Linked DNA regions of Homo sapiens. The protein of the gene in region 4 purifies or fractionates together with the protein of the main gene of each other region. This does not show direct contact. Each region holds a gene or a part of one and is shown on either strand. Other genes may lie near its edges.

The links.
Region 1: the proteins of USP25 (region 4) and PCMT1 purify together in Homo sapiens (affinity purification with mass spectrometry, with the first as the bait; one large-scale study listed by BioGRID). This does not show direct contact.
Region 2: the proteins of USP25 (region 4) and KLHL13 purify together in Homo sapiens (affinity purification with mass spectrometry; 2 studies listed by BioGRID). This does not show direct contact.
Region 3: the proteins of USP25 (region 4) and CGAS purify together in Homo sapiens (affinity purification with western blotting, with the first as the bait; one study listed by BioGRID). This does not show direct contact.
Region 5: the proteins of USP25 (region 4) and KCTD13 purify together in Homo sapiens (affinity purification with mass spectrometry; 3 studies listed by BioGRID and IntAct, with this or other methods). This does not show direct contact.
Region 6: the proteins of USP25 (region 4) and CUL2 purify together in Homo sapiens (affinity purification with mass spectrometry; 2 studies listed by BioGRID and IntAct, with this or other methods). This does not show direct contact.
Region 7: the proteins of USP25 (region 4) and KRT4 purify together in Homo sapiens (affinity purification with mass spectrometry; one large-scale study listed by BioGRID and IntAct). This does not show direct contact.

The regions. Positions count from the first base shown.
Region 1 is NC_000006.12:149,808,741-149,811,919, forward strand, and holds the end of PCMT1 (protein-L-isoaspartate(D-aspartate) O-methyltransferase), read left to right. Parts: intron 1-1,875; coding exon of another isoform or gene 1,876-1,888; 3' UTR 1,889-2,679; downstream 2,680-3,179. UniProt on the Homo sapiens protein: Initiates the repair of damaged proteins by catalyzing methyl esterification of L-isoaspartyl and D-aspartyl residues produced by spontaneous isomerization and racemization of L-aspartyl and L-asparaginyl residues in aging peptides and proteins.
Region 2 is NC_000023.11:117,897,313-117,900,561, forward strand, and holds the end of KLHL13 (kelch-like protein 13), read right to left. Parts: intron 2,084-3,249; coding exon 1,596-2,083; 3' UTR 501-1,595; downstream 1-500. UniProt on the Homo sapiens protein: Substrate-specific adapter of a BCR (BTB-CUL3-RBX1) E3 ubiquitin-protein ligase complex required for mitotic progression and cytokinesis.
Region 3 is NC_000006.12:73,442,298-73,445,797, forward strand, and holds part of CGAS (cyclic GMP-AMP synthase), read right to left. Parts: intron 3,451-3,500; coding exon 3,231-3,450; intron 1-3,230. UniProt on the Homo sapiens protein: Nucleotidyltransferase that catalyzes the formation of cyclic GMP-AMP (2',3'-cGAMP) from ATP and GTP and plays a key role in innate immunity.
Region 4 is NC_000021.9:15,830,982-15,834,481, forward strand, and holds part of USP25 (ubiquitin carboxyl-terminal hydrolase 25), read left to right. Parts: intron 1-419; coding exon 420-648; intron 649-2,345; coding exon of another isoform or gene 2,346-2,359; exon of another isoform or gene 2,360-2,366; coding exon 2,367-2,567; intron 2,568-3,500. UniProt on the Homo sapiens protein: Deubiquitinating enzyme that hydrolyzes ubiquitin moieties conjugated to substrates and thus, functions in various biological processes including inflammation and immune response.
Region 5 is NC_000016.10:29,916,227-29,919,726, reverse strand, and holds part of KCTD13 (BTB/POZ domain-containing adapter for CUL3-mediated RhoA degradation protein 1), read left to right. Parts: exon of another isoform or gene 1-196; intron 197-3,500. UniProt on the Homo sapiens protein: Substrate-specific adapter of a BCR (BTB-CUL3-RBX1) E3 ubiquitin-protein ligase complex required for synaptic transmission.
Region 6 is NC_000010.11:35,083,842-35,087,341, forward strand, and holds part of CUL2 (cullin-2), read right to left. Parts: intron 1-3,500.
Region 7 is NC_000012.12:52,811,317-52,815,261, forward strand, and holds the start of KRT4 (keratin, type II cytoskeletal 4), read right to left. Parts: upstream 2,801-3,945; 5' UTR 2,743-2,800; coding exon 2,281-2,742; intron 662-2,280; coding exon 447-661; intron 1-446.

The DNA.
Region 1 (3,179 bases), on a different chromosome or scaffold from region 4:
ATTCTCCTGCCTCAGCCTCCCGAATAGCTAGGATTACAGGTGCATGCCACCACACCCGGCTAATTATTTGTATTTTTAGTAGAGACGAGGTTTCACCATGTTAGCCAGGATGGTCTCGATCTCCTGACCTCATGATCCGCCCGCCTTGGCCTCCCAAAGTGCTGGGATTACAGGTGTGAGCCACTGCCCCTGGCAAATTGTAGTAAATTATTTAAAAATAACAATATCTTTGGCTTGGGCATGGTGGCTCACACCTGTAATCCCAGCACTTTGGGAGGCTGAGGTGGGCAGATCACTTGAGGTCAGGAGTTCGAGACCAGCCTGAGCAACGTGGTGAAACCCTGTCTCTACTAATAATACAAAAAAAATTTAGCCGGGTATGGTGGTGCCTGCCTGTAATCCCAGCGACTCGGGAGGCTGAGGCAGGAGAATTGCTGGAACCTGGGAGGCAGAGGTTGCAGTGAGCCATGATCACACCACTGCACTCCAGCCTAGGTGACAGAGCGAGACTCTGTCTCAAAAAAAAAAAAAAAAAAAAAAAGCCAAAACAAGAAAAACAATATCTTCAGTTCATATTCTAAAAAGCAGAAGTGAATTTTACTTTATGAATAGAGCACTTTGCAAATAATTCTTTGTTGACCAAATATTTTAATGCCTGCATGAGTTAAGTAAAAGCTGTTCTATGAGAATTATAACATTGTTATTTGGAAGAATATATTAAGAGGAAGCAGACTTATGATTTGTCATTTAATAGATAATCCAATACTATAGGATAAAGGCAGCTTATTGGAGAAATGATTTTAAAAATATTTTCTTGCACAATTTACAAAATTTAGTTTAAAAAAATTGTCCAGTAATTTACCCCCACTTACTTGTGAAATTATGAGCTCTTTATTTCTTCTTCCCTTCAAATTTATCTTAACAACTTTTTCAAAACTTTTAACTTTAATTTTTATTGCCAACAAGTTGCTAGGATAGTACAAATAACTCCTAAATCTCTTCATCCAGAGTCATCAATTATTATCATTTTTCTACATTTCTTTCCCCTCTTTCTATATATACATATATGTAATTTTTTTCCTTTTTCTTAAACCACTTGAGACTTAATTATCAATATCATGCTTCTTTACCCCTAAAGTTCTTGTTTTTGTCACTCACATTACCTTCAGCTATGAGGCTTGTGGGCTTCTCTCGTGGTTTTATTCATTTTTTCACTTTTAACAGTTTTACTGAGGTATAACTGAGATACCATACAGTTTATTTTAGACTGCATTTTTATTCCTTCCTTCCTCTCACTGGCAGTTGCTGGTACAGTGCTGCACCTGGCTGAGTGAATGGTTTCTTTTGGAGCTGATAAAGCTGCCTTATGAAATCAGCTGACAGGTATATTATACCTACAGATGATGCCTTTTCTCTCAGAGCGCTTGGGTTGAGATTGACCCACTCCACAATTGCTAGTGGACATTCTGAGCAAAAGACCACATTTCTGTCCAATTTTGTGAATGTAACTATCAACTCATTTGAACTCTAAAACACTTAAGTTGTCATTTTACTATAGTGTAAAGATGACCGTAGATCTAAAAGATATTTTTTCTGAATTTTGACATTGAAGGAAGAAATCTATTTTTAGAAATCAAAAATGAAGAACTCACGCCCTTTAGGTTGCATACTTGGTTCTGGAGTGGCATGGAAGATGTTTGGAATGGCTGACCCTCTGTTGCTTTCACTTGGGTTGTTTGCATTTTTATTTTTTAAATATATTGCTTGGTGATCAGCGCATTTTTATTGACTTAATAGTTGTGTCTAAACTATTATAAAGCCAAATTGGGTAGTGTGTAACTCCTACTAATGTATTTCTCTCTTTTTTCCTCACAGGGATGAATTGTAAAAGCAACATCAGCTTGACCAGTATAAAATTACAGTGGATTGCTCATCTCAGTCCTCAAAGCTTTTTGAAAACCAACACCATCACAGCTTGTTTTGGACTTTGTTACACTGTTATTTTCAGCATGAAAATGTGTGTTTTTTTAGGGTTTCTGATTCTTCAAAGAGGCACAGAGCCAAATTGGTAGAGGAAGGATGCAAAGTATAAATTTGTGTAATATTACTTTAACATGCCCATATTTTACTTGGAAATATTAAAAGAAAGGGTTCTGTAAAATGGAAAACTTAGTTTGTGAATTGATTTTGAGGAGTGGTTTTTCTTTTCTTGGACACTTAATTCTGTTCTGATATTAATTTATCAGATTGCTTTTGTGCATTGGATAACACCACCATTCACAAGTTAAGATTCTTGGTATTTGGATATCTGTTAGATGCTACTAAGAAAATAGAGATGAGCTTTCTTTTTAAAGCTTTTGATGTGGTGTCATAGAATAGCATGTTGTAGATACAATCAGCTGCTTTGTTACCTTAAAACTAGGCATTTGTAAATATTAAACCATAAGATGGCAGGTGATGTCCTGTAAACACTCAGCTGTTCAGATTGGACATAACTGACTTAGTTCTTCCCTTCTCTCTCTCTCAAAATTATAGGAGACTTGTAGTTTAGTGTGGTTTTCTGTTTCTAATTTGCTGCTGATAATGTATATGAACTTAACATGCTGTGTAAGCTGTGTCCTAGTTCTTGAACAGTTTATGCAGTGCTGCTTTGCCAAATAAAGTTAAAAGTAAAAGAGGCATTGGTTGTTTTTGAATATAGAAGGAAGAACAGCAAGTCCACCAGATAGGGAGTGTTTACGATCATGGGAAAAAGACTGTTTCTCTGGTTGTTTCCTTTTGCGAAGTCTGAGTAAGTAATTAGCATTAATCCAACTGTACATTGTAGAATGTGACTACACTGCTCCAGGGCCAGGACCGTACTTCAGTCGTCATTTCTCTTTGACTCCCTAGCCCAGGGCTTGCCCTGTAGTAGCTATACAGTAAATGCTGGTGAGTGAGTGAGTGGTGAATGAATCGACTTAAAGTCAGGAAAGAACAGGATTGAGGGTGAACAGACCAAAACCCATCTCTCACCTATACAAAGATTTATTAATATAATGACTATAGCTGAATTTCTAAGAAGGCAGTAGCACTTTGGGATCTTATTTAAATGTTGTGATTTATAACTTTTATAAGAAGTAGTTCTGGAACTGAGGAAATATAAGCTCCAGAATGAGCAGAATCAGCACTCCCAGCAA
Region 2 (3,249 bases), on a different chromosome or scaffold from region 4:
CATAGCCCTAAATTTTTGGCTCAGATTTAATCTGATCATCTGCAGATAAAGTAGAGAAGATCACAATACGATGCTAATATAATTCTCAAATAATCTTTCACAAAAACATTTTTCCTTTGGGATCCCAGGTCGACAAATCTCTAAGGTAATTTTACACAATCCCTTCTCATCAGGCAAGATGGATCCTCTTGAAGATCAGGGAGACTAAACTCGGAATTGTAACTGCTCTTCTGGTTTAGATATGGCTGGCAGTTCTTCTGTGGTGATGAAAAGCCAGTTAGCATCTTCCATAATCTAATTCCCCAAACACAACCAGCAATGAGTTTTGATGAATAAGGTTAGATTTTGTCAAATTCTTTTTTTCCTTGAATAAAAAGGCATATTCACTCATCCAAGCTGCTCAGAGCTGTAAATTCTGATCACATTTTGCCATGCCAAAAATATAGATATTTAATCAAAGGAAGTCAAATCAGACAATAATGGGATGTCTCAGACCAAAATGACATTAAATGTTTTTATTGAACAAAAAAAGATAAAACATGGAAGTTGAATTTACTGAGCAAAAGCAGCTCTCCAGGTGAAGCTGCTATACTTTGTGCTAAATAACCTTATGAACTGAGTATACAGAATACATATAATATGCAAGTTACCTCAACAGCAAAGGAGAAGGAGTAGAATACAGTTTTTGAAGATAAAATCTGGTCAAGTGACAAATTTTGTTGCTCAAAATTTCTAGCCCTTATCCACCTAAATTCTGTATGGTTCTACATATATGCATTCAGTATGTGCATACTGAATTCCCATTTTAATGGAAGCTGCTTTTTGGAAGAATTCTTTTTAATTTCACATTTCTTTGATGTGCCACTCAATTTTTAAAAAAATTATATTTGACATATGTGCATGTGTGTATGTGTATGTATGTATACACACTTTAAAAACACCAAACCCTTGTTTATAAGTAGAGGGTTCATGCTGCTTTTTAAATTAATATTAGTGAATTTAAGCTACTTCTCCTGTGTGTCTAGGAAACTTTGTGTTCTCAATGCACCCACACAGTCAAGTGGGTTGACAGATATGTCAAAAATACTTTATGAAAAGAGGGAGGTAGCTCATGCGAGTTGGCAACCTTTTGTGTATTGTTTCCTGTTCAAGCAGGCTGCCTCCCTTTGACATCTTACAGTCAAAGATGAAAGGAAAACTTTTTACTTGAAGCCTAGTGAGCACAGTTGTACATTTACTATAATCCACCTTCAACTTGGCTTATTGGGTTTACTAATGTAAGATGACAAATACCTTACACCCAATACACAGCATTTAAAAAGTACTGAAGAAACATTTTATAGACAATACTTTTTTTTTCATATGTTAAACATCAGCTTCTATGGGATACATTTCCAGAATGGTTGTGTTACCACTTTATAAACATTCTAGGCCAAACAAAGAGCACAAATAACATCAATGTTGTCTTTTTTCCAATATCTGTATCAATTACCAGAGGGTAATCCTAACATATATACTACTTAAGGGGGAAAAAGAAGAGAATTTATGACACATTGCAAAGATAGAACTACAGCATCTTAGTTGTAGAGATGATCTTAAGGTGCAGAAAGAGGGGACTCTCTAGAAGGTGATGGTGTGGTTTCTTCTGGTGGAAAAACTGTGAGTGTGCAAGCACGAATGCCACCAAGGGATTCTGGCAGATCAAAAACCTTATGCCATTCATCTTTATCTGGATCATATTTCTGCACTATCTCTACCATACAACGATTATTCCAAGAATACCCCCCAACCACATAGATTTTATTTTCGAAGACAGCGACCCCAACATCACTCTGCCCTCTTAACATGGCAGCAATTGGGGTCCACTGGTCAAGGATAGGTGAATAGTATTCACAGCTTAGGACATCATCATAATCACTTGTTCCTCTGAAGTGATTGCCACCAATGACATAGAGCCTTTCTCCCACTGTACACATGCAATGCAGACCTCTGACAGTGGTCATTGGCGCCTTCTGGATCCATTTGTCAGTATCAGGGTCAAAGCACATGAGCTCCTTTTGGAAAGTATCATGAGTAATTCCTCCTAAAGAATGAAAACAATAGTTTTGAAGTAAATAATTATAGAAATGCAAAAGTAATTAAAGGAGCTCTGTCACAGATAACTTTTAGTCACATATTATGACATATACCTTATCAATACTGTTCTTAGGACTGTCTTCCCTCTATAAATACATTCTCTGGATTAAAAGTAAAGAAAATAGCATTTTCATCTTCTTAAAGAACAAAACAATTACTTTTTTTGCAATCACTTACATTATTGCAATGACTTTCTCAAATGTAGATCCCTGGTATTTAAAAGGCTTTGCTGAAGGAAAATATATTTTGATCACTGATAGAGTTGGGTCTGTAGTAAATTCCAACTACAAAGCATCATTCACTACTTACTGCCTTTTAGTGGGTACCCTCTGGGTACTGAGCACTGGGCTAGAGCACATTAAATTCCAGGTTCCCATTTCCTCACTTGTCACAAAACAATATCTACTCTAGTTATTGCATCAGGATTGTGACTCTGAAGTGAGATATTTATCAAAATGCTTTGAAAAAGTTGAAAGTCTTGCACATGTGTAAAAGCTTATAAGAATATTCAGAATTGTTTATGTTTATAGAGTTTTCTGTGGGCAGAGTGAGGGTGGATAATGTCATCTCTTATCAGAATGCATATTTAAAAATCTAAAGAATTAGAATGCTGAATATACGTGGAATTTTATACATGCACCAATTTGTTGTTAATCTAATTTAGTCTGTATCATCTACAAAGTGTACTCTTAGATCACATATAAACCAGTCTCTACAATGAAAGTATTAAACGATACCTTCTGTAGACAAGGGAAAGAAGTAAGCTAATCTTTAGTCAAATCATTCAAACCTTTACTGTCAAATGGCCAGATGCCAATCACTATCACTGTTTCCTTCTGCTTTTTAAAAATATTTTCCTTGTGCTTTACAGAATTCCCAGAAAGCAAAACAGTGTTCATTGTTTTGAAAATCAGCTATAGTTTCTAACCACTCTTGATTGGGAAGGTCATTTCTGCAATATACGCCAGTTATGCCAAAACACCACTAAAACAATTCAGGTGTCATTTTTCTCAGAGGAGTTGGAGCTCTCATTATAATGGTACAGCAGCTGCCCACATAAAATAGATAGATGGTGTAAATCATTGATTAATGGGAGCATATTTATTACCTGGA
Region 3 (3,500 bases), on a different chromosome or scaffold from region 4:
ATTATTCTGAAATTCATACAAAGGGTTATAGGGTATACCTCTCCTTTCACCCCACATCTTCCTCCTCTCCATACTCACCCATCTTTCTGCTTCCTTCCAGCCCAAACTTTTTTTTTTTTTTGAGACAGGGTCCCGTTCTGTCACCCAGGCTGGAGTGCAGTAGCGTGAACATGGCTCACTGCAGCCTCAACCTCCTAGGTTCAAGCAATCCTCTTGCCTCAGCATCGTATGTAGCTGGGACCACAGGCACATGCCACCACTCCTGGCTAATTAAAAAAATGTTTTTTTCTTTTTTCTTTCTTTTTTTTTTTTTTTTTTTCTGAGACAGTCTTGCTCTGTCGCTCAGGCTGGAGTGCAGTGGCGCAATCTCAGCTCACTGCAACCTCTGTCTCCCAGGCTCAAGCAATTCTTTTGCCTCAACTTCCTGAGTAGCTATGATTATAGGTGTCTGCCACCACGCCTGGCTAATTTTTGTATTTTTAGTACAGACGGGGTTTCATCATCTTGGCCAGGCTGGTCTTGAACTCCTGACCTTGTGATCCGCCCACCTTGGCCTCCCAAAGTGCTGGGATTACAGGCATGAGCCACCATACCTGGCCTAAAATTTTTTTTTGTAGAGATGGACTCTCACTTTGTTGCCCAGGCTGGTCTTGAACTCCTGGGCTCAAGCAATCCTTCTGCCTTGGCCTCCCAAAGTGCTGAGACACCACAGTTAGCCCAGACAGAACTTTCTAGAGTGGCCTACACATGTTATCTCCACTGCAACCCTGCCTTTTCACTCTGTGTCCATCACCCCACTGACATTTCTCTTGTCAACCCCACAAGACCAAAGAACAAATCCATTGGATTTCTGGATGTCAGTAGCATTCCAAACACTGACCGCTCCTTCTACAAAACACTCATAGTCTCCTTTTGTTCATTCTCTTCTTCCCAAACTCTTTTTTTTTTTTTTTTTTTTCTGAGACAGGGTCTCACTCTGTCGCCCAGGCTGGAGTTCAGTGGCGCGGTCTCAGCTCACTGCAACCTCCGCCTTCTGGGTTCAAGAAATTCTCTGCCTCAGCCTCCCAAGTAGCTGGGATTACAGGCACCCGCCACCACGCCCGGCTAGTTTTTTGTATTTTTAGTCAAGACGGGGTTTCACCATCTTGGCCAGGCTGGTCTTGAACTCCTGACCTCGTGATCCACCCGCCTCGGCCTCCCAAAGTGTTGGGATTACAGGCGTGAGCCACGGCGCCTGGCTCTTCCCAAACTCTAATGGAATTCTCTTCTTACCACTCTACTTAACATTGCAACTTCCCCCCCACCTCCATCTCCCACATTCCTGATCCCTCTCACTTTGCTATACTTCTTCACAACAGCACTTACTACTTTCCAGTATACAAGATAATCATTTTTTCCATTTGTTATTAATTGTACGTCTGTGCTTGCAAGATAAAGCTCTTAATCTAATAGCGTAATAACATACAACACAAATTGCAGTGAGTGCTCTGAAGGGAATAAACTGGGAAAAGTGATAGCAATTAGGGTGGAATGGGGTGGTGGAGCCAAGCCCTGAGGCAGAAAAAAAGAGCTTGGAAAGATCTAGGAACAAAAAGAGACTCTTTCGGAAAAGATGAAGTTATATGAAATGAAGCTGAAGAGGCAGCCAGGGACCAGATTCTGTACTGACTTGTAGACCCTGAAAAGGACTTTAGATTTCATTTTATTTTTGAGACGGAGTCTTGCTCTGTCGCCCAGGCTGGAGTGCAGTGGCACGATCTCGGCTCACTGCAACCTCCACCTCTCGGGTTCAAGCGATTCTCCTGCCTCAGCCTCCCGAGTAGCTGGGATTACAGGCATCCACCACCACGCCTGGCTAATTTTTGTATTTTTAGTATAGATGGGGTTTCACCATCTTAGCCAGGCTGGTCTTGAACTCCTGACCTCGTGATATACCTACCTCAGCTTCCCAAAGTGCTGGGATTACAGGTGTGAGCCACTGCGCCTGGCCAGATTTTAATTTAATTTAATTTAATTTTATTTTATTTTGAGATGGAGTTTCGCTCTTGTCACTCAGGCTGGAGTGCAATGCCCCGATCTCGGCTTACTGCAACCTCTGCCTCCCAGGTTGAAGCAATTCTCCTGCCTCAGCCTCCCAAGTAGCTGGGATTACAGACATGTGCCACCACACCCGGCTAATTTTTGTATTTTTAGTAGAGATGGGGTTTCTCCATGTTGGCCAGGCTGGTCTCAAACTCCTGAGCTCAGGTGATCCACGCACCTCAGCCTCCCAAAGTGCTGGGATTACAGGTGTGAGCCACTGCGCCTGGCACCAGATTTTATTATCTGATCATTGAGAAGCCAGGTTTTCATCAGAGAGTAATGACTGGCTTTGTATTTTAAAACATTTACTCTGGCTTCTAAGGACAGATATTATAAGAAGGCAAATAGGGAGATTAGAAAGGAAAATGATGTAATAGTTCAGGTAAAAGATGGTGGCAGCTTAGGTGGGGTGGGAGTAGGGTGCTGGGATTGAAGCAGCAGACAGGTCCAAGCTGTAGCAGCACTTGCATCTGGATTAAGCGTAGGGGGTAACAGAGAGGATTAAATTAAGATGGTTCCCAGGTTTCTGGATGGTGCGTCTGGGTGGATTGATTGTGCCATTTTCTGAGATGGGAAGGACTGAGGCAAAACATAGTTTGGTATATGAATTAAGTTATGTTTATTCGCTTTGGATATGTTTGGTTATAGATTCCTGTGGTACATCAACATCAAAGTGGATATGTTAAGGACGTAGCTGGATATAGGTTTGGAGTGCAAAGGATATATTTGGGCTGCAAGTAAACATTTGGGAGTCATCATCATATAGGTGGCATTGGGAATGGATGAAATACCTAGGCAGAGAGTGTAGATTCATTTATCCATCAATTTAATAAATATTCATTGATTATTTCATATAATTTAATCATTTAATTTAATCAATATTCATTGATTATCTAATGTGTAGGTGTTCTAGTTATTTAGGATTCATTAGAGAACAAATAGATAAAGACCTCTACCCTTCTGTACTTTATAATCTTGTAATCATATTATAAGTAATTGCCAATGTACACTCCTCTACTGATGTTTCTTGACCTCTCTACTGCACTTTTTCTTACTGCAGAGAGGTCAAGAAACATGAGAATGGGAGTGTACATTGGCAATTACTAGGTATAATTAAACCTTTAAGAATCAAAAGGCAAAAGTCTTACCTTTAATGTCGTTAATTTCTTCCTTAATGATTTTCCTAAACTTTGACAGCATCTTAGAAGCTGATAATATTTCACCTTCTAAAAACTGACTCAGAGGATTTTCTTTCGGATTTCTTTTAAATTTCACAAAGTAATATGCACGAGTGTTGGAATATTCTTCTAGTTGAATTCTGGGGACTTCCAGTTTAAACATGACATCAAATTCATTAGGTGCAGAAATCTAAGAAACAGTAAAAATAGTACTGAAATATTTGCTTATGAATATTTTCC
Region 4 (3,500 bases):
AAGGACTCCATTACATTTTAACTTCTGGTGTATATCATATAATCTATTTTGTTAACCGTCAATTTAGAATTCTGAAGATGTAGACACATTTGCTATATGTAAAACTGCCCACTATAAGCTTTTTATTCAAATAAACAATTAGGCCAATGAGTATGTACACAATAAATACATTTTTAGTTTTTCAAAAATCATCTTTTTAATCTATCAACTTTGCATATCTTTAGCTTATTCAGATTCCGTCTTTTTAAAGTTTTATAGTTTAGTTTTTTTCAAACTTTTAAGCCCAGCCAGTTCTCTCTCATTTAAAAAAAAAAATGCTCTTATGGTTTTCTCCAAACAGGTTGTTTGTGGGTTTCATGGAATGTGGTATATAGTAAACTACATAATTGCAGTTTAACTCTTCTTTTTTTCACATTTAGGTTCCTTATCGATTACATGCCGTTTTAGTTCACGAAGGCCAAGCTAATGCTGGGCACTACTGGGCATATATTTTTGATCATCGTGAAAGCAGATGGATGAAGTACAATGATATTGCTGTGACAAAATCATCATGGGAAGAGCTAGTGAGGGACTCTTTTGGTGGTTATAGAAATGCCAGTGCATACTGTTTAATGTACATAAATGATAAGGCACAGTTCCTAATACAAGGTAAGAATATATAGGGTGGTGTGTATTTTTAAATAGTCATAAAAGTGGCTCTGGTATGTGGTGTGATTAGTTAAGTGTAATTCACTCAGACGATGAAGGATGTGGTTAGGAAATGCTACTGGGTTTTGACAAGACTGAATTGAAAAGTAATGTCGTCAGGGCTAAGAATTCGTATATATTTTGTATTCCAAGTCAACTATTAAAGGTAAATATGACCTTTTTCGTCCTTGCTAAAAATGCTTTAGTGACTGTTCCACAGATTGACTCACATTTAATATTTAATTCCTTAGCCTAACATATATGGCCTCTGTTCTTGGCCTCTGATTATCTCCCCACCTTCATTGATCACCAGTGTTCCTTTTGAATTTATATCCTTACTGAACTTCTTGCTGTATCTGCTCATATCAAACCATTTCACACATTTATGTTTGCATGTTCGTATATGTTTTATTTTTTGCTAGTAATTCTTTTGCCTAATTCTTGTTTATCTGTCAAGATTCAATTCAGGTGTCATTTCCCCTGCAAACTATTTCTTGATCTGCCAAAAAGTATCTCTCCTTATGCTGTCCTGGCATCTGTCTACTGGGCATTTACTGTTGTGTATTGGAACTGTGTGATGACTTGTCTTGCACATTTCTCTCTTATCTGCTCAGAGCCAGAGATCATGTCATACTATGTCTGAATCTTTTTAATGCTGATATTCTGATATATGCTTTGCATATAGAAAATAATAAAGGTTTATTGAAACTGATAAAAATAATCTTTTTATATTTAGTCATTCAGAATCAGCTAGGCAGTCCACTTCTGACTAAAAAAATGAAGTTATTTTTCTGTGTGTGTAGTAGAAGTTCAGTAATTCTTCTGAATACTCTATTGTTTTTAAGATCTTGCTATATTAATTTTCATAATTGCATATTTAAGTCTACTTAATTTCTTCATATGACAAACAATTTTCATTTTATTTTGAGCTAATAAGGTTAACATGATTATGAGTTGTTTACATTTTGTGAAAAGTTTTACTTTTTAAGTGATCAAACATCTGGTATTTTCCAATAGTGGCAGAAGTAGTATTACATCACTGTTAGAGTAGCAAAGAAAAAAAAAAATGGCCGGGCGCGGTGGCTTATGCCTGTAATCCCAGCACTTTGGGAGGCCAAGGTGGGCAGATCATGAGGTCAGGAGATCGAGACCATCCTGGCTAACACAGTGAAACCCCATTCTACTAAAAATACAAAAAAATTAGCCGGGCTTGGTGGTGGGCACCTGTAGTCTCAGCTACCCGGGAGGCTGAGGCGGGAGAATCGTCTGAACCCGGAAGGCGGAGGTTGCAGTGAGCCGAGATTGTGTCACTGCACTCCAGCCTGAGTGACAGCATGACACTCTGTCTCAAAAAAACAAACAACAACAGCAACAAAAAACTTGGCTTTGGCTTTGTATTTTCTGTCACTTCTACTCTTAAGATAAAAAAAAATCTGAGACCATTACCTATGATGGATTATCAAATATTTTCATCATTGTTTTTCTGAGCATTTGTTTGAGTTTTAAAAAGTTTTGTAGATAATAATTATTTGCTAAGCAATAGTAATTCTTAAGTAATATGATTGGCTGAGTGGTAATAATTCATAGTTTAAATTCTATTTGAAATGCAGTCTATTTTGAGCTTTGCATTTTCCCTTTAATTCTTAATTTTATACTAGTTTTTGAAATATGATTTGCAGAGGAGTTTAATAAAGAAACTGGGCAGCCCCTTGTTGGTATAGAAACATTACCACCGGATTTGAGAGATTTTGTTGAGGAAGACAACCAACGATTTGAAAAAGAACTAGAAGAATGGGATGCACAACTTGCCCAGAAAGCTTTGCAGGAAAAGCTTTTAGCGTCTCAGAAATTGAGAGAGTCAGAGACTTCTGTGACAACAGGTTTGTCCATTTTTATTAAGTTGTGTTTGATTATCAATATTATTTTTATAATAAGATATGCTCATTATTAAAAAGTTTTAGCTATCTTAAAGTGTGAGGAAATCAGTAGAAATCATTTCAAATTCCATCACTCAGATTATCACAGTTAACAATTTAGTTTACCTTTTTGCCAGACACCACTGTATATATTTATATGTTTTTCAAGATAAATGAGATAATTCTGTTGACTTTCCCTCTACCTACTCTGCCTGTGTTGGGTGGGCTTGAATTTTCTTGGCAAGTAGCAGAGAAAGCTGTGAAATCAGCAAGAAACCCAAACCAATTCACTAAAGCTATCAAGAGTATCAATTCAATAAAGCTATCAAGAGTATCAATTCAATAAAGCTATCAAGAGTAGTAATTTTAAATTTGGCCAAAATAATACTACCGGTATATTCATATATACTTTGTGCAATAGTAAAATACTACCATTAATAACTATTTGATGTTTTTCGGAATTCTTAAGATTAAGAGAAAATTGACCAAAACTATTTAGTATATCACAGGTAAAAAGTAAGTGTATAGACCTGTAAACCAAAGATATAAATGCATAAACATATAAATATTTAAAAACATTATTCTGAAATGAACTATTAGCTGATGAAATCAATAAGTCAAAGTAAACACTGTATAGGAATTAAGAAAATAGTTTCTAGTAAAATTGAAAATATATTGTCTTTTTATTTTCTTAAAAGATTACTCTTCACTGAGTTGCAAATATGTTTTAGGGCAACATGTTTTCTGGTATAGAAAATGCTATTTCTCAGAGAAGCTATAAATTAAGCGCATATATTTTCCTCAAACTCATTTGTCTCTTTTTATAACTGCTAGTGGATATTATTGAATAACTTTTTTTTTTTGCAAGATCTGCATGTTTTGTGTTTTAAGGAAGTA
Region 5 (3,500 bases), on a different chromosome or scaffold from region 4:
AATCGTGTTGTATGAAATGTTTTATAATCTGTTTTTTGTTGTTGTTAATAATTGCCATCTTTACATGTCAATAAATTTTTATTTAATATCCAGTCCAGGGCATACTCCGGTTTCTCCAGTTGTTCCAGAAATGTGTTTTTACAGCTGGTTCATCAAACCAGGGTCCAGTCTAGATCTTCACGTTGCATCTGGTTATCTGCAAGTTAACAATGGAAAGCATGACTTTACAAATAGTTTCATGTAATAATGTTGAAGAGATGATAAGAGTTATAGGTATTCTATGGCACGAATGTAATTACTGGTTCAGGTAAGGATTATCATTGATAGGTAACTGCCTTAATACAGTTACCATAATAATACCATAAGCATTACTTTATTACATAAGCCAAATAATACCATAAGCATTACTTTATTACATAAGCCAAATAATACCATAAGCATTACTTTATTACAATCCAAGGGGTCCCTTTTTCCTCACGATGCTGGCTTGTTAAAGAGACTGCCAGTTGTCCTGCACAATGACCCGCTTTCCAACTTTGCCTGGTTGTTTACTCCCGGTATCGTTTGGTTTATTACCCAGCCTTATCCTTAATTTCCTGTAAACCAGACTGTAGATTTTAAATGACTGATATTGGGTGGGCACGGTGGCTCACGCCTATAATCCCAGCACTTTGGGAGGCCAAGGCAGGTGGATCACTTGAGGTCAGGAGTTTGAGACCAGCCTGGTCAGCATGGTGAAACCCCATCTCTATTAAAAATACAAAAATTATGCCAGGTGCGGTGGCTCATGCCTGTAATCCCAGCACTTTGGGAGGCTGAGGCAGGTGGATCACAAGGTCAGGAGTTCAAGACCAGCCTGGCCAACATGGTGAAACCCTGTATCTACTAAAAATACAAAAAAATTAGCCAGGCCTGGTGGTGGGCATCTGTAATCCCAGCTACTCAGGAGGCTGAGGCAGGAGAATCGCTTGAACCTGGGGAGGCAGAGGTTGCAGTGAGCCGAGATCGTGCCACTGCACTCCAGCCTGGGCAACAGTGCGAGACTCCATCTCAAAAATAAATAAATAAATAAATAAAAAATTACAAAAATTAGCTGGGAGTGGTGGTGGGTGCCTGTAGTCCCAGTTACTCAGGAGGCTGAGGCAGAAGAATTATATGAACCTGGGAGGCAGAGGTTGCAGTGAGTCAAGGTTGCACCACTGCACTCCAGCCTGGTCAACAGAGCAAGACTCTGTCTCAAAATAAATGAATAAATAATAAAATAAATAAAATGACTGATATTAAACATTTTGTTTAGAATACATTTTAGGTAATATTATGTATGTATTTCACGTTGGGCCACATCAAGCAACCCATAATATTGTTAATATGACTCGTCATTAATGACGTTCATAATTGGCCCCTGGATCTAGGGGATGGTGGTTTGATTTCTCTATCATTGTTACATTTCCTTGTTGCTAACTATAAAATAATGCATATGGTATTTGGCCACTGTATTAAGGCAGTTACCTATCAATGACACACAAATTGATAATCCTTACCTGAACCAGTAATTACATTTGTGCCACAGAATACCTATAAGTCTTTTCTCTTCAACATTATTACATGAGATTATTTGTAAAGTCATGCTTTCCATTGTCAACTTGAAAAATTCTTGATTTGGATGTAGTCCAATTCCTCACCATTTTTTGCCTAATGCTGTATCCTTATGGTCTTGTTTAAAAATGTTTTTCTGATTTTCTGTTACCTGTGAGCTTTGTAGTTTTATTTTTATTTTTTGAGGCAGAGTCTTGATCTGTCACCCAGGTTAGAGTTCAATGGTGTCATCTCGGCTCACTGCAACCTCCACCTCCCAGGTTCAAACAATTTTCATGTCTCAGCCTCCCGAGTAGCTGCGATTACAGGCGTGCACCATGACACCTGGCTGATTTTTTATTTTTTATTTTTCTAAATGGAGTCTCACTCTATTGCCCAGACTGGAGTGCAGTGGCATGATCTCGGCTCACTGCAACCTCTGCCTCCCGGGTTCAAGCGATTCTCCTGCCCTAACCTCCTGAGTAGCTGGGATTACAGGCGTGCACCACCATGCCTGGCTAATTTTTGTATTTTAGCAGAGATGGGGTTTCACGACGTTGGCCAGACTGGTCTCGAACTCCTGACCTCGTGATCCGCCCGCCTTGGTCTCCCAAAGTGCTGGGATTACAAGCATGAGCCACCACACCCGTCTAATTTTTGTATTTTTTGTAGAAAGGGGGTTTTGCCATGTTGGTCAAGCTGGTCTCAAACTCCTGAGCTCAAGCGATCTGCCCACTTCGGCCTCCCAAAGTGCTGGGATTACAGGTGTGATCCGCTATACCTGACCTATAGTTTTAAATATGGATTTTTTTCATATATGGGTATTTTAATCTAAATGGAACTCACTTTTGTAAATATGATTGTGAAGGGATTTAGCTCATTTTTGTCTTCCATAGGGTGAGGTAGTTTTCCCAGTGCCAGGTATTAAACAGTCCAGAGGTAGCCAGCACCCAAGACAGCCACCAGGGGTTCTTGCCTCCTGGTTTCCAGGCTCTTGTTCAGTCCCCTCCCACACCAAATAGGGCAGACCTTTTCAGATCCTCACCAAGGAGACCCTTGTGTATGACCAATAGGACATTGCAGAAATGACAGCATGTGACTTTGAAGCTAGGTCATAAAAGACATTACAGCTTCTGCCTCTCTTTGAGATCACTCACTCTATGTGAATGCTATGTGAGGACACTCAGGCATCCCTAAGCAGAGGTCCACTTGGTGAGGAACTGAAGCCCCTGCCGACAGCAAGCACAGACTCCCCGCCATAGTGGTGACCTGTCTCAGAACCAGAGCTTCTAGGCCCAGGCAAACCTTCTGATGACTGCAGCCCTAGCCAAAATCCAGACTGCAGCTTCATGACAGATTCTGGGCCAGGGCCACCCAGCTAAGCCCATCCCAAATTCCTGACCCACAGAAACTATGTGAGATAATGTTTATTTTTATTTATTTATTTTTAAATAGAGACAGAGTCTTGCTCTGTCGGCCAGGCTGGTCTCGAACTCCTGACCTCAAGCAGTCCTCCAGCCTTGGCCTCCCAAAATGCTGAGATTACAGGCATGAGCCTCCACACCTGGACTGTTGTTTTAAGCTGCTGAGTTTGTAGTAATTTGTTACCCAGTAACAGAGAACAGACTTTGGTTTCTGGAATGGGGGTCTGCCATAACAGAAACCTCAAATGTAGAAGTAACTTTACAACTGAGAAGTGGGAAGAAGCTGGAAGGACTTTGAGGAGATTGTTAGTAAAAGCTTAAGGAGTGTTAAAAAGTATTGGCTGGGCACAGTGGTTCACACTTGTAATACCATAACTTTTGGAGGCCAAGGTGGGAGGATCACTTGAGTTCAGGAGTTCGAGACCAGCCTGAGCAATATAGTGAGACCTTGTCTCTAAAAAAATTAAAAGAAAAAAGGTGAGAAAGTCTGTTAATAAGAGT
Region 6 (3,500 bases), on a different chromosome or scaffold from region 4:
CTGAATTAAAACAAGGCTGAGATATTTTTAAAAATTTACATATGGCAAATCCATGTTTCATTCTTTGAAAAGCAACCTACAATAGAGAAAGACTAAGTCACTGAATTAATAGATGTAACTAACATTATTTATAATGTTAAACTATATAAAAGAGGCCAGGCACAGTGGCTCACACCTGTAATCCCAGCACCTTGGAAGGCCAAAGAGGGCGGATCTCTTGAGGTCAGGAGTTCAAGACCAGCCTGGTCAACATGGCAAAACCCTATCTCTACTAAAAATATAAAAATTAGTCAGGTGTGGTGGCAGACACCTATAGTCCCAGCTACTTGGGAGGCTGAGGCAGGAGAATCACTTGAACCCAGGAGGCAGAGGTTGCAGTGAGCTGAGATCGCGCCACTGCACTACAGCTTGGGTGACGAGTGAAACTCTGTCTCAAACAAGCAAACAAGACACAGTATCAGTCTGAATTTTTAATTCTCCAGAATAACAAAGCTTAAAGCAAAAGGAAATATTCCACCTCTCCTCCTCCAAAAGAAAAATCAACAGGGTTCAAGGCACCCCGGAAGTTTCTACAGATCCAACACCACAATCTTAACCTAACACTACTACTGTCTCAAAACTTTTAAGAATCAAAGGGATTGTCTCCAATAAGCCTTTCCCAATGAAAAGCCAAATATAAAGTACTGATATAGAAATCTATACATTCTTAAAGGTAACCCAAAGATTATGCTAACTGCAATATGACAGATACGTTACCAGTAAGATTCAAACCCAGGCACAGAGCCAAATCACTCTGAATAGATATTGTGATTAACTGATTACTGAGAGAGGGTTCAGTCATACATCTCATAGATCAATAACTTGTTATAAATCTCATAACATTCCAAATCGCTGCTTGTTTTTCCAAGATTTAACATGAGCCAGTCATAAGTCCTCATAATATTAAGATTCTAGGGCTGATCCTGTCATCAATTTACTTAAAAACAACTGATAGTTGGACAGGCCTGGTGGCTCACACTTGTAATCCCAGCACTTTGGTAAGCCGAGGCAAGTGAATCATGAGGTCAGGAGTTCAAGACCAGCCTGGCCAACATGGTGAAACCCCGTCTCTACTAAAAATACAAAAAAATTAGCTGGGGGTGGTGGTGGGCGCCTGTAATCCCAGTTACTTGGGAAGCTGAGGCAGGAGAGTCTCTTAAATGCCAGAGGCGGAGAATGCAGTCAGCCGAGATTGTGCCACTGCACTCCAGCCTGGGTGACAGTGTGAGACTCCATCTCAAAAAATAATAATAATAAAAAATAACTGGCTGGGTGTGGTGGCTCACACCTGTAATCCCAGCACTCTGGGAGGCTGAGGCAGGCAGATCACAAGGTCAGGAGATTGAGACCATCCTGGCTAACACAGTGAAACCCCGTCTCTACTAAAAAAATACAAAAAATTAGCCAGGCATGGTGGCGGCTGCCTGTAGTCCCAGCTACTTTGGAGACTGAGGCAGGAGAATGGCGTAGACCCAGGAGGCAGAGCTTGCAGTGAGCTGAGATCGCGCCACTGCGCTCCAGCCTGGGCGACAAAGCGAGACACCGTCCCAAAAAAAAATAAAAATAAAAATAACTGTTAGGGCCAGGCGCGGTGTGGCTCACACCTGTAATCCCAGCACTTTGGGACACTGAGGAAGGCGGACCACAAGGTCAGGAGATCAAGACCATCCTGGCTAACACGGTGAAACTCCATCTCTATGAAAAATACAAAAAATTAGCCGGGCATGGTGGCAGGCGCCTGTAGTCCCAGCTACTCGGGAGGCTGAGGCAGAATGGTGTGAACCCGGGAACCAGAGACACAGCCAGACTCTGTCTCAAAAAAAAAAAAAAAAAAAAAACTGATAGTGCATATGAAACATTGCTTTCAATCACAGCCAGACATTTTTCCAGAATACACAAAGAACAGGCAGATAAGGTAGAACACAAAACAAACAGTGCAAACTTTTGTAAAGTCTCACAAAAAGAAACAGCTTTTTACAGCGAGGGAGGAAGGGCATAAGGGTTGAAAAACGGTTGGGTACTATGTTCAGCACCTGAGTGACGGGATCATTGTATCCTAAACCTCAGCATCACACAATATACCCGGGTAACAAACCTACGTGTGTACCTCCTGAATCTAAAATGAAAGTTGAAAAAGATAAAAATAAAGAAACAAGCAGCCTGGCCAACATAGTGAAACCTTGTCTCTACTAAAAATACAAAAATTAGCTGAGAGTGGTGGAGGGCGCCTGTAGTCCCAGCTCGGGAAGTGGAGGCTGCAGTGGGCTGAGATTGAGCCCCTGCACTCCAGACTGAGAGACTCTGTCTCAAAAAAAAAAAAGAAACAAGAAACAAGGCCGGGCACAGTGGATCACGCCTGTAATCCTAACACTTAGGGAGGCTGAGGTGGGAGAATTGTTTGAGCCCAGGAGTTCGAGACCAGCCTGGGCAACACAATGAAACTCTCTTAGTTCTGTCACCCAGGCTGGAGTATAGTGGCTCACTGCAGCCTCCACCTCCTGGGTTCAAGTAATCCTCTCACCTCAACCTCCCTAGCAGCTGGGATTACAGGCCTGCACCACCACACCTGGCTAATTTCTGTATTTTTTGTACAGACAGGGTTCGCCATGTTGCCCAAGCTGGTCTCAAGCTGCTGGGCTCAAGTGATCCACCCACCTCAACCTCCCAAAGTGCTGGGATTACAGGCCTGAGCCACCGTACGTGGCCGGAAACAGCTTTTTAAACAACTCCACACCTGTAGGTCAAAAACTTAACGAGACCAGCCTGGCCAACATGGTGAAGCCCCATCTCTACTAAAAATACAAACTCCAGCCTGGGTGACAGAGCGAACACCATCTCAAAATAAATAAATAAATAAATAAATGAACTTAACAAGGGCAGGGACCAAATCAGAAAATGCTGCAGTACTCCACAGTTTTATCCTCTTTCTACATTCTCTGTGTTCTCATCCTATTTCATAACTTAACTACTATTTAACACTCTAAAAAATACAAATGTCAAAGTAAAGTGTACTACTGTTTCTGCAAAGTGGGAACAATATTTGCTTATATGTCCACAAATATTTTTTTCCAAGGAGATCTAAGAAACAGCTAACAATGTTTGGCTCCAAGGAAAGCTGGATGACAAGGGTACAAGAAGTGGAGGGAGATTTTCATTCTATTCCCTACTGACAATTTTATATTTTGGTTTTCTGTTTGTTTTAGAGACAGGGTCTCACTCTGTCACTCAGGCTGGAGTGCAGTGGTGCAATCACAGATCACTGCCACTTCCAACCTGGTCATCTGGCCTCAGCTTCCCAACAGCGGGTACTACAGGCGTGCGCCACCACGCCTGGCTAATGTTTTTTAAATTATTTTTTGTAGACATGGGGTCTCACCATGTTGCCCAGACTAACATCTTAAATTTTGAGCCATGTGAATACAGTTTTTGTTCAAAACATTAGTATACCAATAAATAAATGC
Region 7 (3,945 bases), on a different chromosome or scaffold from region 4:
CATTTAATTCTCACAACCCATAAAGTAGGAATATTATCCCCATTTCAAAGATGAATAAAACTGAAGCTCAGAGAGGTTCAGCTATTTACCCAAGGTCACACAGCTAGTAAGTGAGGACTCAGTATGCAAACCACCTCCATCTGTCTCTACAGTCTGTATTCTTCTAATCATACTATACTGCTTTTCATCTATTTGGGTTCTGATCTTGTTCGTATATGGCAGACCCAAATCCCTGAATCTATCATTAAATTTCCTTTCGGAAAAATCTGTGGTTACCAGACCTCACCCTGAGAAAACGTGACTATGTGGATGTAGCAAAACAGACTAGAGGGCCTTCCTAGACGCCTTCAGAGCCTGAGATTCTAAGCCACTGGAGAGAGCCCCGGGAGCCTGGGTGTGGCTGGGCACATGTGTCAGATGGCGTCCCCTCCTTCCTCCCCATGTACTTAGTCTTGAAGTCCTCCACGCTGTCCTGCATGGTCTTCAGCTCAGACTGCAGGCGCCCTTTGTCATTGCCCAAGGTATCTAGCTGCTTCCTCAGGACACTGAGGTAGGTCTCAAAGAGGGGCTCAAGGTTTTTGCTGGAGGTGGTGGTCGTCTGCTGCTGGAGCAGGTTCCATTTGGTCTCCAGGACCTTATTCTGTTGCTCTAAGAACTGCACCTGTGTTGATAAAGGCACCAGCCAAGTGATGAGGGCCTGAAGTGTGGCAGGAGGGCCAGCCAAGGCAACACCAACCCAGTCAATCCCAGGGAACTACACGGCCCAAGAACCACCCAAGTAGGGCCACTATGTTGCATCTCCAGGGCACCATTCACTCGGGTTGACATGATGGCCCCATTCTCGAGCCCATAGCACCAAGGGGTCACATAGGTTGTGGAGAATAGAGCACAGCCAGAGAAGCAGGGCCTAACAGTGCAACAAGAACAACTTCCTAGCCGCAGGCACCCAAAGCCCCAAAGAACATTAAACTTCTATGAAATAACAAAATAAAATTAAGAGACATCACAATCTGGAGGCTCTTGCATTCAAAGTGATCCTGACCCAAGGCAAATGAAAGACAAAGTCACTACAGACTTTTTAAATAAGCTTACTTATCAATGGATCTGGCGTGTCCCTGTGAACCTGTGAACAACTGAGTATAGATATTTAAAACAAGGGCCCTGTACGCATTGTCTCACCTAAACTCCATTCTGCAAAGGACTTTCCTGAACTTTCCCTCTCTCTATGAAAAAATCTAGCCAGACAAACCAGGACAGCAGCTTAGCATGACATTTCCATGTTATGAGCCTCAGAATTGAAAGGAAAGCAGGTAAGGCAGACCGATCACATTTTGAACCCAAAAGGTAAAATGAGATGAGATGAGACAAGGATGCATCAAAGAGCCCTGAGTTTTTGCTATCACATCTGCATGTCCTATAGTCACAGTAAAACCTCTTTAAGTTACTATGGGTTTATTCAAACTAGCAAGAAGAACAAATATGCACCTTATTCTATTCCAAAAGTGTTCATTCTTGCCCCATATGTCGAAGCTGCCCAAGACTTTGATGCCTGGTGAACCAGGGCAACCTGGACCAAAGGGAGGCACTCATCCACCCAGTCATCAATCTTTGGATGACTCGGCTCTCTGGGGCTGCACTGCTCACTATCATCCATCATGCATGACCATAACTGAGCTTAAAGAACTTGAACTTCTAGACGTTGCATGAAAAAGGAAGTTGGGCTACAAAAAGAAAAGAGACCTGTCTCCTTTCTTCAAACAGACCCAGACATGAGCAGTGTTGTCCAGTCAAAGGAATGAAAAAAGTAAATTTCCAAGGCCTTGGTGAGACCTAGAATCTGCCACTGGAGCCAGTCCCTTTTTCATTTGCAAAATCAGCTTAGTTGTCTTCTGTTCTAAGAACAGAAGTGGCCACTGTTAAGTGATTAATGGGGTTAACTGCATTATATTCAAAACCAAAATCTGAGAAAAAGCAGAGAAATAATGAACCCCCTTTATAGCTGGGATGACTAGAGCCAGAAAAGCCAAATGATTTGTCCAGTATCCCACAGCCTGTCTAGGGAATTCCAAACACTTAACTGCCTTGAGCATCCCACCTTCCCACCAGCCACGGGACAAAAAGGAAGGCTCAAAGTCATGATGCCCCTTCAACAGCTGGAGAATTGGGGCCCAGGGAAGTTCAGTGGTCTCCCCAGCACCTGTGGCAGGCTCAGGTCTGAGACCCCAGGACTCAGGACCCCTCTCTTCTAACTGCCCCTCTCCAGCCGAGGACACAGCTCACCTTGTCGATGAAGGAGGCAAACTTGTTGTTGAGGAGCTTGATCTGTTCGCGCTCTTCCGTCCGGACTTTCTGGATCTCAGGGTCAATCTCCACGTGGAGGGGGGTGAGCAAGCTCTGGTTGATGGTGACCTCCTGAATTCCCCCAGCGGGGCAGACGGGGAAGCCAGGGCCACCCTTACCACTGAAGGAGCCCCCAAATCCACCACCAAAGCCACCAGTGCCAAAGCCTCCAGCACCCCCAAAGCAGGCACCTTGTCGTGACCCAGCCACACTCATGGAGATGCTTTTGTTCCCCCTGAGGTTGTAGAGGCTTCTGCTGCCAAATCCCCCAGAAGAGCATCGGCCAGCACCTCCAGACATGGAGACTGAGCTGAAGGCACCTCTCTTGCCACCGCCTACAATGGCCGAGCCACAGCTGAAGCCCCGGGGCCCGCCTCGGACACACTGCTGTCTGGCAATCATGGCTGCAGAGAGCGAGCTGGGAGCTATCAGAGAAGTGACAGGGCCCAGGCCGGTGAGTGCTGGAGCCCTCAGCCTTCGTCTCTTATATGTCCTGGAGCAGCAGGGCTTGGTTGCAGGGGCATAAAGGGAAAAATCTGAAACATCTCTGGGCTTGGCCCTTGGCACAAGCCCATCCTTCCCGCACCCGTTGAGCATGTCACTAAACACACCTACAGAAGTCATCTGGAGGGCACAGGTTACTGGATCCCATCACACTACTCTCTGGGAGAACCTGAACTGGTGCCCCAGGGCTTCCTAATCAGAAGCCCCTGCCTGGGCCCAGCGCTCCAGGCCCACACCCACTGTACCTCCATCTCGCTAGGCTCACAGCACCTCCCTCCTCCAGAAAAGACACCCCATCACCCATCCTCTCACCCCACAGAATGTGGAGTTAGACAGCCTGAGTTTGAGCGCACAGCCTGCCACCTCCTAGCTCTGCAAACCGGAGCAAGTCACCCTCTGAGGCCCAGTTGCTTTCCCTGTAAATTGGAAGTAATACAAATATTTGCCTTGCCACTTCTCAGGATAGAGTGAGCTAGTGATTAATGGAGTGCTCTGTAAACTGTCAAAAGCCACATGTATATTTGTCATTCTTAGCATTCTTATTCCTCCACATGTTCTTGGCTCCATGTACCTATAAAAAGGGGAAATATTCTGTATTCCAGCCTTAGCCTTCCAACCTAGATCCAGATTCACTTCAACTTGGCCAACAGCTACTGAGAAACTGCCAGGCATGGAGCTAGGTACTAAGGAGATGGGGGAAGACAAAACACCTCCCCAAAGAAAACCGTGACTGTCTTTCTCAGCCCTGGGTACCCATGCTGCCCCGCAGGCCTCCCTTCAATCTGTGCTTGCACAATTCTAGATGGGCGTTCTCCAGCGGGGTCTGGTGGTGTGCACTCTGCTGCTCCATTTGCTGTCCAGTTGTTTGCTAGGTGTGTTCTGGTTTTCTGTAATGGTGCAGAATTCAGGGCAGGAGTTCATAACTTTTTTGCTGCTGGGGATCCCTTTGGCAGAATGATGAAACCTATGGATCCCTTCTCAGAGCAATGTTTTTAAATGCAAAATCCTAGTTTTAAGCCATAACTTAAATTCTTCCCAACTGAACAGTAACAGATCTGTGTTCAAATCCCTCCTGTTGCCACTAACTAGCTGTATAACCTT